Linked DNA regions of Homo sapiens: region 1 is linked to region 2. The links come from fine-mapping of genetic effects on gene expression. Tissue or cell type: whole blood. Region 2 holds a variant in brackets; the other region holds the start of a gene. All regions are shown on one strand. Distances are from middle to middle.

Evidence for each region. PIP is the estimated chance that this variant, and not a neighbour inherited with it, causes the effect.
Region 1: it holds the start of ZC3H15, and the variant in region 2 is fine-mapped to the expression of ZC3H15 in whole blood (INTERVAL, PIP above 0.99).

What each region holds. Positions count from the first base shown.
Region 1 is chr2:186,483,559-186,488,558 of GRCh38, forward strand. ZC3H15 (zinc finger CCCH-type containing 15) reads left to right here and starts at 2,702. Exons shown (of 10, transcript NM_018471.3): 1 at 2,702-2,899. The coding sequence starts at 2,825. LOC105373785 (a long non-coding RNA gene) reads right to left here and starts at 2,442. Exons shown (of 2, transcript XR_001739147.3): 1 at 2,242-2,442. It also overlaps the pseudogene DPRXP1. RefSeq lists an enhancer at 2,332-2,811.
Region 2 is chr2:186,396,685-186,402,407 of GRCh38, forward strand. No RefSeq gene overlaps it. Among named protein-coding and RNA genes, the nearest start is that of ZC3H15, 87 kb to the right of the region's middle. The variant C/CT (reference allele first, on the strand shown) is at 2,661.

The DNA.
Region 1 (5,000 bases), 87 kb after region 2:
TTATTTTCTCATAGTTTTGGGTGCTAGTAGGCTGAGATCAAGGTGTCAGCATGTTTGGTTTCTTCCAAGGCTTCTCTCTTGGCTTGCAGATGGCCACCTTCTAGCTATGTCTTCAAATATGTTTATGGAAATATTGTTCACAGAATCTATAGGAAGCCTGGAAAATCAGGCTTGGGAAATAAAAGAAGCAAGAAATAATAGCAAAGAATGAAGTAAGGACTTGTATGGATCTTGCCACACTGGCCTGCCGCCACTGGACTGGTAATACCATACATGCACTCTAATGCCCTGAAAAATTCCTACACTTTGAGTCTTTGTCTTGTTTTCTTGAGATTAAAAGCCTGAGACATAGGGCTTCCTTCCTATACAGAAGGACATTAGAATGCTGGATAGCAAACAATAATTTCTATTCAGTACAAAATCTACTGCCTTAATCTATTACATCTGATACATTCCAATAAATGTAAAGTTATCCAAATGGCTATATCCAAGGCAGTAAATTCACAGCCTGTCTACCAAATCGAAGCAGTCAGGTTTGACAGTTTTTCTTTTAGTTCTTTTACGGTGGGCATTTACCTCAGGTTTAACACTGTTCCCACAACTTCCTAATGTATTTCACTCATCCTGACGCTCAAGTTTATAGCCCTGCTTTCTTGGGTATATGAATTGTAACCCTTGGACTATGCCTTCTAAGCACTGTTTTGTGAAAGTTTCGTTTGAATTGTAAGGTCAATAAAAATAGCAGTAGAAGACATAAAAGTCCCAGCCCTGCTACCATTTGCTATTTGAGACCAGGAAAAACCATGTACCTTATTTCAAAAAGTAGTGAATTCAATGAGTTGGACTTCCTTATTTCTAAAATGTATGAAGAAATAGTGTACGAGGGAGAGTGCTATAAGAGCATGTACTATATTCAGAAATGTGTATTTTCCACTTGAGGCAAGAAAGGATCTTTGTTCTCTACCTGGGCTACACTTCAGAGGAAAAAACCGAAAGCAAAGGTCAGGAGACAGAAGAAGTTATGAACCATGAAACTGGAGCCATTATCATAACATTATGAGACTCTAGATTCTTTGTAACTTCCCCATATTTGTTACTTATAATTCATTTGCCTCATAATAATAATCAGTAAAATTACTCAAAATCAAAGGCCCAAAGGGCATCTTTGGGGCACTAAAAGTAGGAAGTTAAGACAACTACATTCCATATGCAAACAAAGTCTCAAAGGAGACGATCCCCAAATAATCAAATGGATAATAATACTGAGTAAAGAGGGGGCTGGCTGCATCCCTCCATCCTCTGACAAGAACTATGACAATTACAAAAAATAAAGATGAAAATATGTAAAAGGGGGGGAGCCCATTAACCTGCCAATATGAGCCCAAATGAAAAAAAGTGTGTCAACATACACCTGCCATTCTCGACACAATTCTTTTTAGTAGCTATCACATTTCTTCTACACACACACATACACACACAAAACATACTTGGGGTTCCTTGACATTATCTTACGTAGAAAATTACTAAGCAAATAATCAATTTGACTAAGTAGGGGGGCTTATCGTTTTCTCCCTATTCAAATTAATGAAAAAGATAAAAAAACTTTTATCTATAAAGATGATTCTTGGTTCCACAATGCTTCTTAACAGAAATAGTTTAAACAATAATCATTTTAAAAAATAACAGCTAAGCATTGTACATTTTTAAAAAATAGTATTTTCGTTTGTACAAATATCAATGGGTCCCATTCATCATTCAAGTACCTTTTCAAACAGGATCTAAGTTTGTAATGTTAGGTAATAGGCATATAGGCTGAAGCCGGACTGCCAAGATTACAATTGCTGGCTCTGTCCTTAATATAACTTTGGGCATCTTTCTTCCTTTCTCTGCTTCATCTATAAAACGAAAACAGTAACAACTCCCACCTAAGTGTCGTTGTGATAACTAAATGAAATAGTGTGTGTAATGTGCCAAGGAATTTCTGGAGCTACCAAGCACTTAAACTAAGTTCTAACTAAGTTTGGTTACTTTCACGTTATAAAGGAATTTTTAGGAATCACCTAGGCACTCTCCTAAAGTCTCAAAATAACTTAATACAGTACTTCTAAGGAGTTCAAGTGCCTCCTTATCTGGGACGCCATCTCAGATGCTCTTCAAATGAAAGGGACCCTGCAAATGAAAGTTAACTTTTTCCATTTTTTAAATAATCCTTCGCAGGAATCTGAAGCACGCGACACTCACGGGCCATTCAGCTCCGCCTCTCCAGGGAACAAGAAGGTTAACTGAGTAACGTGGTCACGGAGCAACCCCGAGTCGCTGCGGCTGCTTAGTAGTCACTCAGGATGGGGATGGTACAGGGGACCATTAACTGGCCCGGCAGGAAAAGTTTCCCGGTGAGGTGACGATGGACAAGAGTCGCCCCATCGTAAGCGAAAGTGGACTGAGAGGAAGCACAAACGCATGGACTCAACCAGCTCGCCCAGATTCACCCTCAGGCCTTTTGCCATCTGAAAAGGGCCTATCGGATGCGCGACATCACGAGTGACGCGTAGTCATTTTCCCACGTCCCGTCCCTGCCCCCTCCTAGTGGGACGCAGTGGGCGCGCACGCGCAGCTCCGCTTCCGGGAGCCGCTCCTCGCTACCCACTATGCTCTGCGACATCGACCTGTCGCAAAGGCCGCGTTTGCGGGGCCAATGAGCGACTCGCTTTCCGTGCGGTGCGGCGAGTGAGGCCCCGGTCTTCCTCCTCGTCCTGCCGCAGGGCCAGAACCCCTGACGGTATTCAGCTGCGCGTAAGTCTGGCCGGTGCCATCTGTCTCCGCAATGCCCCCCAAGAAACAGGCTCAGGCCGGGGGCAGCAAAAAGGCGGAGCAAAAAAAGAAGGAGAAGATTATCGAAGTGAGTACCCACCCCTCCCCCACTCACGCCGCGAGCCCTCCGGAAAGCCACTTCCCCGCTCCGGGCTTCCCTGGGAGCCGGCTCGCTTCCTCGGGCCACGTGTTCCTCCCTTAGGCCTGTGTGGCCCACTGCCCCTTCTCCAGCCCCTGATGACGCTAGCTCTCTCATTACTATAGTGACGCTGCTGGCGCCCCCGCACCTGGGCTTTGCCTCTCCGCCCACACGCCCGTGTTCACCCACCCATGCACCCGGGTGCGAAATGACCCCTCGGGACTGGCACAGGGTTTTATCCTTCGCTAGTCCTCTCAGAATTGAGGAGATTTTCCAAGGTTATGTGTGAAGAAATACGCTGAACGGTCTCGGGCCAGCGTCTTTCTGGAAGACCGACTCATGACGAGTCTTTGTGTTCGTTATTTCTTTACCCGTCACCCAGGGATGGTACTGTTAGTTCTTTTGAACCAACAAATTACGACTTGGTGGCTTTTTCGATCCACCTCTGAAATGTTTAAAGTCCCATAAAGAATGGAAGGACTTTCCGTCACAACCCAGGGTCTTGAACGCAGAGCTTGGTACTTACATTCTGAAGTGGATTAAATAGGATAACGCCTTAAAAGAGATTAGGTTTCAGTGTCACTAATTGTGTGAAGTCCCGTAACCCAGTTTGAGATATATGTGTGTGTGTGCGCGTGTATATATGTATACATCTATGTGTGTGTATATGTGTATATATGTGTGTGTATATATATTCGTTTAACACATTGAGCCTGTAGCCCTTTAATGGCCAAGGAACGCTATTGACGTTCTTACATGTTGTGCACTTGTTTTCCAACAACTGAATTGAGTTTCCTTAAAAGATGAACCATATTTGACATTACGTAAACATACCATACAGACCCCAACGAGGTATTTCTTCCCTCGATTTCTGCTATTAATCCTCCTCATAATTAAATAGGACCTCTTGTACTTTGGATATAATTAGAAAAAGCCATGACCATTTTACCGCATAAGGTGTAAAGTCTGCTCATTGGATTTAAGAAAATGCTTAAGAATTTTGCTATACTTGGCCAGGTTCCAACTTTGGAGGAGAACTGGTATTCTTATTGCCAATTTGTACAGTTTAAAACTGTCATGAAGTACTATAGCCAGACACTTAAAAACAAAATATTACCTTCACATCTGTGTTTTCTATTACCTTATTTGAACAATCTGGATTCGTGGCACTTAGGTAAATTTCAGGGGTTGCTGATCGGATGGCATTCACTTTTATGAAAACCAAGGACATTTTAGGGATGTCGTTTTCCTCGAGATTGGACCCTGATACGAAGTAAAACTCCCATTGAAATTAAATGTTATGTAATAATTTAGACAATTTAAATTATACTTCATGCATTGTAGAGCTTTCTCTATATCTAATTGTTTTATTTTTAATTAGTAGGACTAGTATTCTTATTTTAAGGAATTATGTGTGAAAGTTGTTTATAGTATCCATCAACTTTTAAAATGATGCATATGTTATGATTCTAGTCATCTTGTGACGAAATTATTTTTTAGCTAAAGAGAAAGCAATTTTAGTTTCAATAATGAAGGTATCTCCAAAGAAAAATGCAAAATAAGACAACTGCACTTTTTAACTAAAAATATTAACAACAACAAAGTGGTGAAATTAAGCCCGATTTTGTGTTTTCTACATTTAATATATATTATTTTTTTAATTTATTTTTTGTTGAGGTATAACTTATGTAAAATAAAATGTACAGGTTCTAGATGTATAGTTCTATGTGTTTTGAGGAATTTATTCACCCAGGTAGCTGCCACCCTAATTAAGACTTGAAACATTTCTATCACCCCACTAAATTTGTTTTGTGCCTCTTTCTATTTAATTCTTTCCACACGTGCAGCCACTAATTTTTTTGACAGGATAGATTAGTTTTTACCACTCTAGGAACTCATATAAATTATACAGTAGGTAGCCTTTGTGTCCTTCTTCTTGCTTTCACACCATGCAGTGTTTTTGAGATCCATGCATGTTGTGTATATTTCTAGTATGTTCCTTATTGCTGAAAAGTATTCTCTTGTATGGGAACCATTACAATATGTCACC
Region 2 (5,723 bases):
CCCATTCTGTAGGTTGCCTGTTCATTCTGATGGTAGTTTCTTTTGCTGTGCAGAAGCTCTTTAGTTTAATTAGATCCCATTTGTCAATTTTGGCTTTTGTTGCCATTGCTTTTGGTGTTTTAGACATGAAGTCCTTGCCCATGCCTATGTCCTGAATGGTATTGCCTAGGTTTTCTTTTAGGGTTTTTATGGTTTTAGGTCTAACGTTTAAGTCTTTAATCCATCTTGAATTAATTTTTGAATAAGGTGTAAGGAAGGGATCCAGTTTCAGCTTTCTACATATGGCTAGCCAGTTTTCCCAGCACCATTTATTAAATAGGGAATCCTTTCCCCATTGCTTGTTTTTCTCAGGTTTGTCAAAGATCAGATGGTCGTAGATGTGCGGTATTATTTCTGAGGGCTCTGTTCTGTTCCATTGGTCTATATCTCTGTTTTGATACCAGTACTATGCTGTTTTGGTTACTGTAGCCTCGTAGTATAGTTTGAAGTCAGGTAGCGTGACGCCTCCAGCTTTGTTCTTTTGGCTTAGGATTGTCTTGGTGATGCGGGCTCTTTTTTGGTTCCATATGAACTTTAAAGTAGTTTTTTCCAATTCTGTGAAGAAAGTCATTGGTAGCTTGATGGGGATGGCATTGAATCTATAAATTACCTTGGGCAGTATGGCCATTTTCACGATATTGATTCTTCCTACCCATGAGCAAGGAATGTTCTTCCATTTGTTTGTGTCCTCTTTTATTTCGTTAAGCAGTGGTTTGTAGTTCTCCTTGAAGAGTTCCTTCACATCCCTTGTAAGTTGGATTCCTAGGTATTTTATTCTCTTTGAAGCAATTGTGAATGGGAGTTCACTCATGAATTGGCTCTCTGTTTGTATGTTATTGGTGTATAAGAATGCTTGTGATTTTTGCACATTGATTTTGTATACTGAGACTGCTGAAGTTGCTTATCAGCTTAAGGAGATTTTGGGCTGAGACAATGGGGTTTTCTAGATATACAATCATGTCATCTGCAAACAGGGACAATTTGACTTCCTCTTTTCCCAATTGAATACCCTTTATTTCTTTCTCCTGCCTGATTGCCCTGGCCAGAACTTCCAACACTATGTTGAATAGGAGTGGTGAGAGAGGGCATGCCTGTCTTGTGCCAGTTTTCAAAGGGAATGCTTCCAGTTTTTGCCCATTCAGTATGATATTGGCTGTGGGTTTGTCATAAATAGCTCTTATTATTTTGAGATACGTCCCATCAATACCTAATTTATTGAGAGTTTTTAGCATGAAGGGCTGTTGAATTTTGTCAAAGGCCTTTTCTGCATCTATTGAGACAATCATGTGGTTTTTGTCTTTGGTTCTGTTTATACACTGGATTACGTTTATTGATTTGCATATGTTGAACCAGCCTTGCATCCCAGGGATGAAGCCCACTTGATCATGGTGGATAAGCTTTTTGATGTGTGGCTGTATTCGGTTTGCCAGTATTTTATTGAGGATTTTTGCATCAATGTTCATCAGGGATATTGGTCTAAAATTCTCTTTTTTTGTTGTGTCTGTCAGGCTTTGGTATCAGGATGATGCTGGCCTCATAAAATGAGTTAGGGAGGATTCCCTCTTTTTCTATTAATTGGAATAGTTTCAGAAGGAATGGTGCCAGCTCCTCCTTGTACCTCTGGTAGAATTTGGCTGTGAATCTGTCTGGTCCTGGACTTTTTTTGGTTGGTAGGCTATTAATTATTGCCTCAATTTCAGAGCCTGTTATTGGTCTATTCAGGGATTCAACTTCTTCCTGGTTTAGTCTTGGGAGGGTGTATGTGTCCAGGAATGTATCCATTTCTTCTAGATTTTCTAGTTTATTTGCGTAGAGGTGTTTATAGTATTCTCTGATGGTAGTTTGTATGTCTTTGGGAACTGTGGTAATATCGCCTGTATCATTTTTTATTGTGTCTATTTGATTCTTCCCTCTTTTCTTCTTTATTAGTCTTGCTAGCAGTCTATCAATTTTGTTGATCTTTTCAAAAAACCAGCTCCTGGATTCGTTGATTTTTTGAAGGGTTTTTTGTGTCTCTATCTCCCTCAGTTCTGCTCTGATCTTAGTTATTTCTTGCCTTCTGCTAGATTTTCAGTGTGTTTGCTCGTGCTTCTCTAGTTCTTTTAATTGTGATGTTAGAGTGTCAATTTTAGATATTTCCTGCTTTCTCTTGTGGGCATTTAGTGCTATAAATTTCCCTCTACGCACTGCTTCAAATGTGTCCCAGAGATTCTGGTATGTTCACAACATAATGTTTCTAAGTTTTATCCATGTTGTAGCATAAATCAGTACTTATTACATTTTATGACTAAACAGTATTCCATTGTATGGATATACCATATTTCGGTTATCCATTCATTTGTTGATGGGCATTTTGGTTCCTTCCCCCGTTGGTTGGGACAAATGATGTTGTTATGAACACTAGTGTACACGTTTTTGTTTGAACACCTGTTTTTAATTCTTTGAGTATATATCTAGGAGAAAACTTGCCAGATCACACCATAATTCTATATATAACTTTTTGAGCACCCGCCAAACAGTTCTGCATGACGGCTTCCCCACTTTCCATTCTCATCAGCAATGTACAAGAGCTTTGCCTTTTTCACATCCTTTCCAACATTTTTTTTCTTTTTTCTTTTTCT[C/CT]TTTTTTTTTTTTTTTTTTTTTGGTTATAGTTGTCCTAAAGGTGGGAAGTGGTATCTTATTGAGGTTTGGTTTGCATTTATTTAATGATTAATGATGTTGAGCATGTTTTCACATGCTTATTAGCCATTTGTATATCTTCTCTGGAGAAATGTGAGCTCTGATCCTTGGCCCATTTTTCAATTGGGTCATTTATTTTGTTATTGTTGAGTGGGAAGAATTCTTTATATATTCTGGATACTGGACTCTTATCAGACATATGCTTTGCAAATATTTCTTTCATTCTGTGAGGTATTTTTTAAACTTTATTGATAATGTCCTTTGTTGAAATAAAAAATAATAATTTTGGTAAAGTTCAATTTCTCTATTTTGAAATATTACATTTGCTAAATAAAATAATATTAATTTTGTCCAACAGAATATAAACAAAGATATTTAACTGATCAAAAAAATTGAAATTATCCATAGCAATGCATATTACTGAAAAGTTCCCATATGAGTTATGTCTGAGCATGTTTATTTATATCAAATCTTCTTTCAATGCTGGCTAATTTAAACTTGACATTTGGCTGCTATCATGCTTTAAATTAATTATTTGGATTAATAATAATTTACATAATGGAGACATTTCTATTATATGCGAAGTTTCCATTTCATTAAAAATAATTTTTTTTTCTGTAAATACCCAATAAGCTTATTTTTTAAGCTAAATGCTTAGGTTTAAGACAAGATTTCTCTCTGAACCCCATTAACAATTTTTTTTCAAAAATGCATTACAAAGCTATTATTTTATGTTAAAGACTACCTATGCCAGTGAGTAGTTGTTCCTCACTACCTCATCATAAAGCTAGTCATAAAATCTGAATTTTATCTAGACCCACAAACACTCAGAAGAAAGAAGATTTTCACAAACTCCATTGCAGTTAAAGGTAGCTGTGTGAATAAGAAGTGGCCAAATAATATAAAGTGTTCTTAGCAAATCATTCTTAATAGAAATTAAGAATCATTCTCAATAGAAAGCTACACATGTTCTTTATCCCTTCTTTCTCACTTTACCCCTCCTGTTGTCTAGAATGCAGATGAGATATCTGGAGCTGGGGTAATATTATTCAATCATGGGGGGATATTGGAAATGCAGAAAGGACACAATATTGAAGGGAAATATAGAAAAAACACAATATCAACTCCAACATTATGAGACGACTACACCAATCCTGTATCATCTACTTCCAGACATTTGTGTGAGACAGAAATACATAATATCTTGTTTAAGCCACGATTATTTTGGATTTTTCTGCTGACTGCAAATGAATATAAAATACACTTCCATTTCTGGCTACCACTCAGCCCCATCCCACCATCAATAACAATTTACTTATAAAGTTCCAAGCCAGTACAAGTTTTTTTTTTTTTTGGCCAGTACAAATTTAAACTCTGAAACAATTCTACTTGGAAAGTAAACTTTCCAGAGGTACTTGTATTCCTGTGTACAATATTTTATTTCTGATAATTGAATGTTAATAACTATAAGAATGTAAATAGTGATCATTTTTTATCCTTCATTAACAAAAGTAATCAACATGCAGTTGTTAATAAAATATAGTCTAACCTTAATTTTAGTTTTCCTAAGCTTCAATACCTATGAAACATTTTGTAATCAGAATATGTCTTCAGGAATTTGAATGGGACAAGATTTTCTCATAATGCTGGCAGATGGTTTTATATGATTAACTGCAGCAAATATAGCCTACTGGTTTGAAGGCTTACCAATGGAGAAATGGTCTCACAGGAAGCTTTTTGATAAGTGAAATATAGTCTCTATGATGTGACAATTTAGGAGAATACAAAAACTTTTCTTACAAATTCAGTCCTGAAGAAAAATGAAGAAAAGATTAGTAGTTACTATTCATAGACATAGCTCTAAAATGTGACAAATGCAAGCACATTTATCAGTCCTGTAAATAATTTTTTATAGTTCCATCTGTTTGTTCATTTACTTACCTATCAAAAGCAACAAAAATCAGTTATATTCCTAAGGACTAAGAAGGAATAAGAAATATTCCTTTGAAATAAGGAAGTTCTAATATCAGTTATGATGTAGAAAACAGGATAAAAGTTAATCAAGAAAATTTATAGTAGAGTTTTTTATTATAAGGAAATATTATACTTCTTCATCTCTGAATATAGTATCGCTATTACTAAGAGCCTTAAATATGAATTTTAGAAGCAATAATGCTACTTATGCTTTTATAATCCAGAACAGAAACTTAAACTTTTGGAAGAAGAATCTTACTTATATGTTTCTAGTAGTAATGCTATGTAGTAAGTATTAGTACACTTAGAAGCTTGTGATCAGACTTTATTTAGAAATGCCACTGTTTCCATGTGATCTCATTGTTCAATTCCCACCTATGAGTGAGAATATGCGGTGTTTGATTGTTTGTTCTTGCGATAGTTTACTGAGAATGATGATTTCCACTTTCATCCATGTCCCTACAAAGGACATGAACTCATCATTTTTTATGGCTGCATAGTATTCCATGGTGTATATGTGCCACATTTTCTTAATCCAGTCTATCATTGTTGGACATTTGGGTTGGTTCCAAGTCTTTGCTATTGTGAATAATGCCGCAATAAACATACGTGTGCATGTGTCTTTATAGCAGTATGATTTATAGTCCTTTGGGTATATACCCAGTAATGGGATGGCTGGGTCAAATGGTATTTCTAGTTCTAGATCCCTGAGGAATCGCCACACTGACTTCCACAATGGTTGAACTAGTTTACAGTCCCACCAACAGTGTAAAAGTGTTCCTATTTCTCCACGTCCTCTCCAGCACCTGTTGTTTCCTGACTTTTTAATGATTGCCATTCTAACTGGGGTGAGATGGTATCTCATTGTGGTTTTGATTTGCATTTCTCTGATGGCCAGGGATGATGAGCATTTTTTCATGTGTTTTTTGGCTGCATAAATGTCTTCTTTTGAGAAGTGTCTGTTCATGTCCTTTGCCCACTTTTTGATGGGGTTGTTTGTTTTTTTCTTGTAAATTTGTTTGAGTTCATTG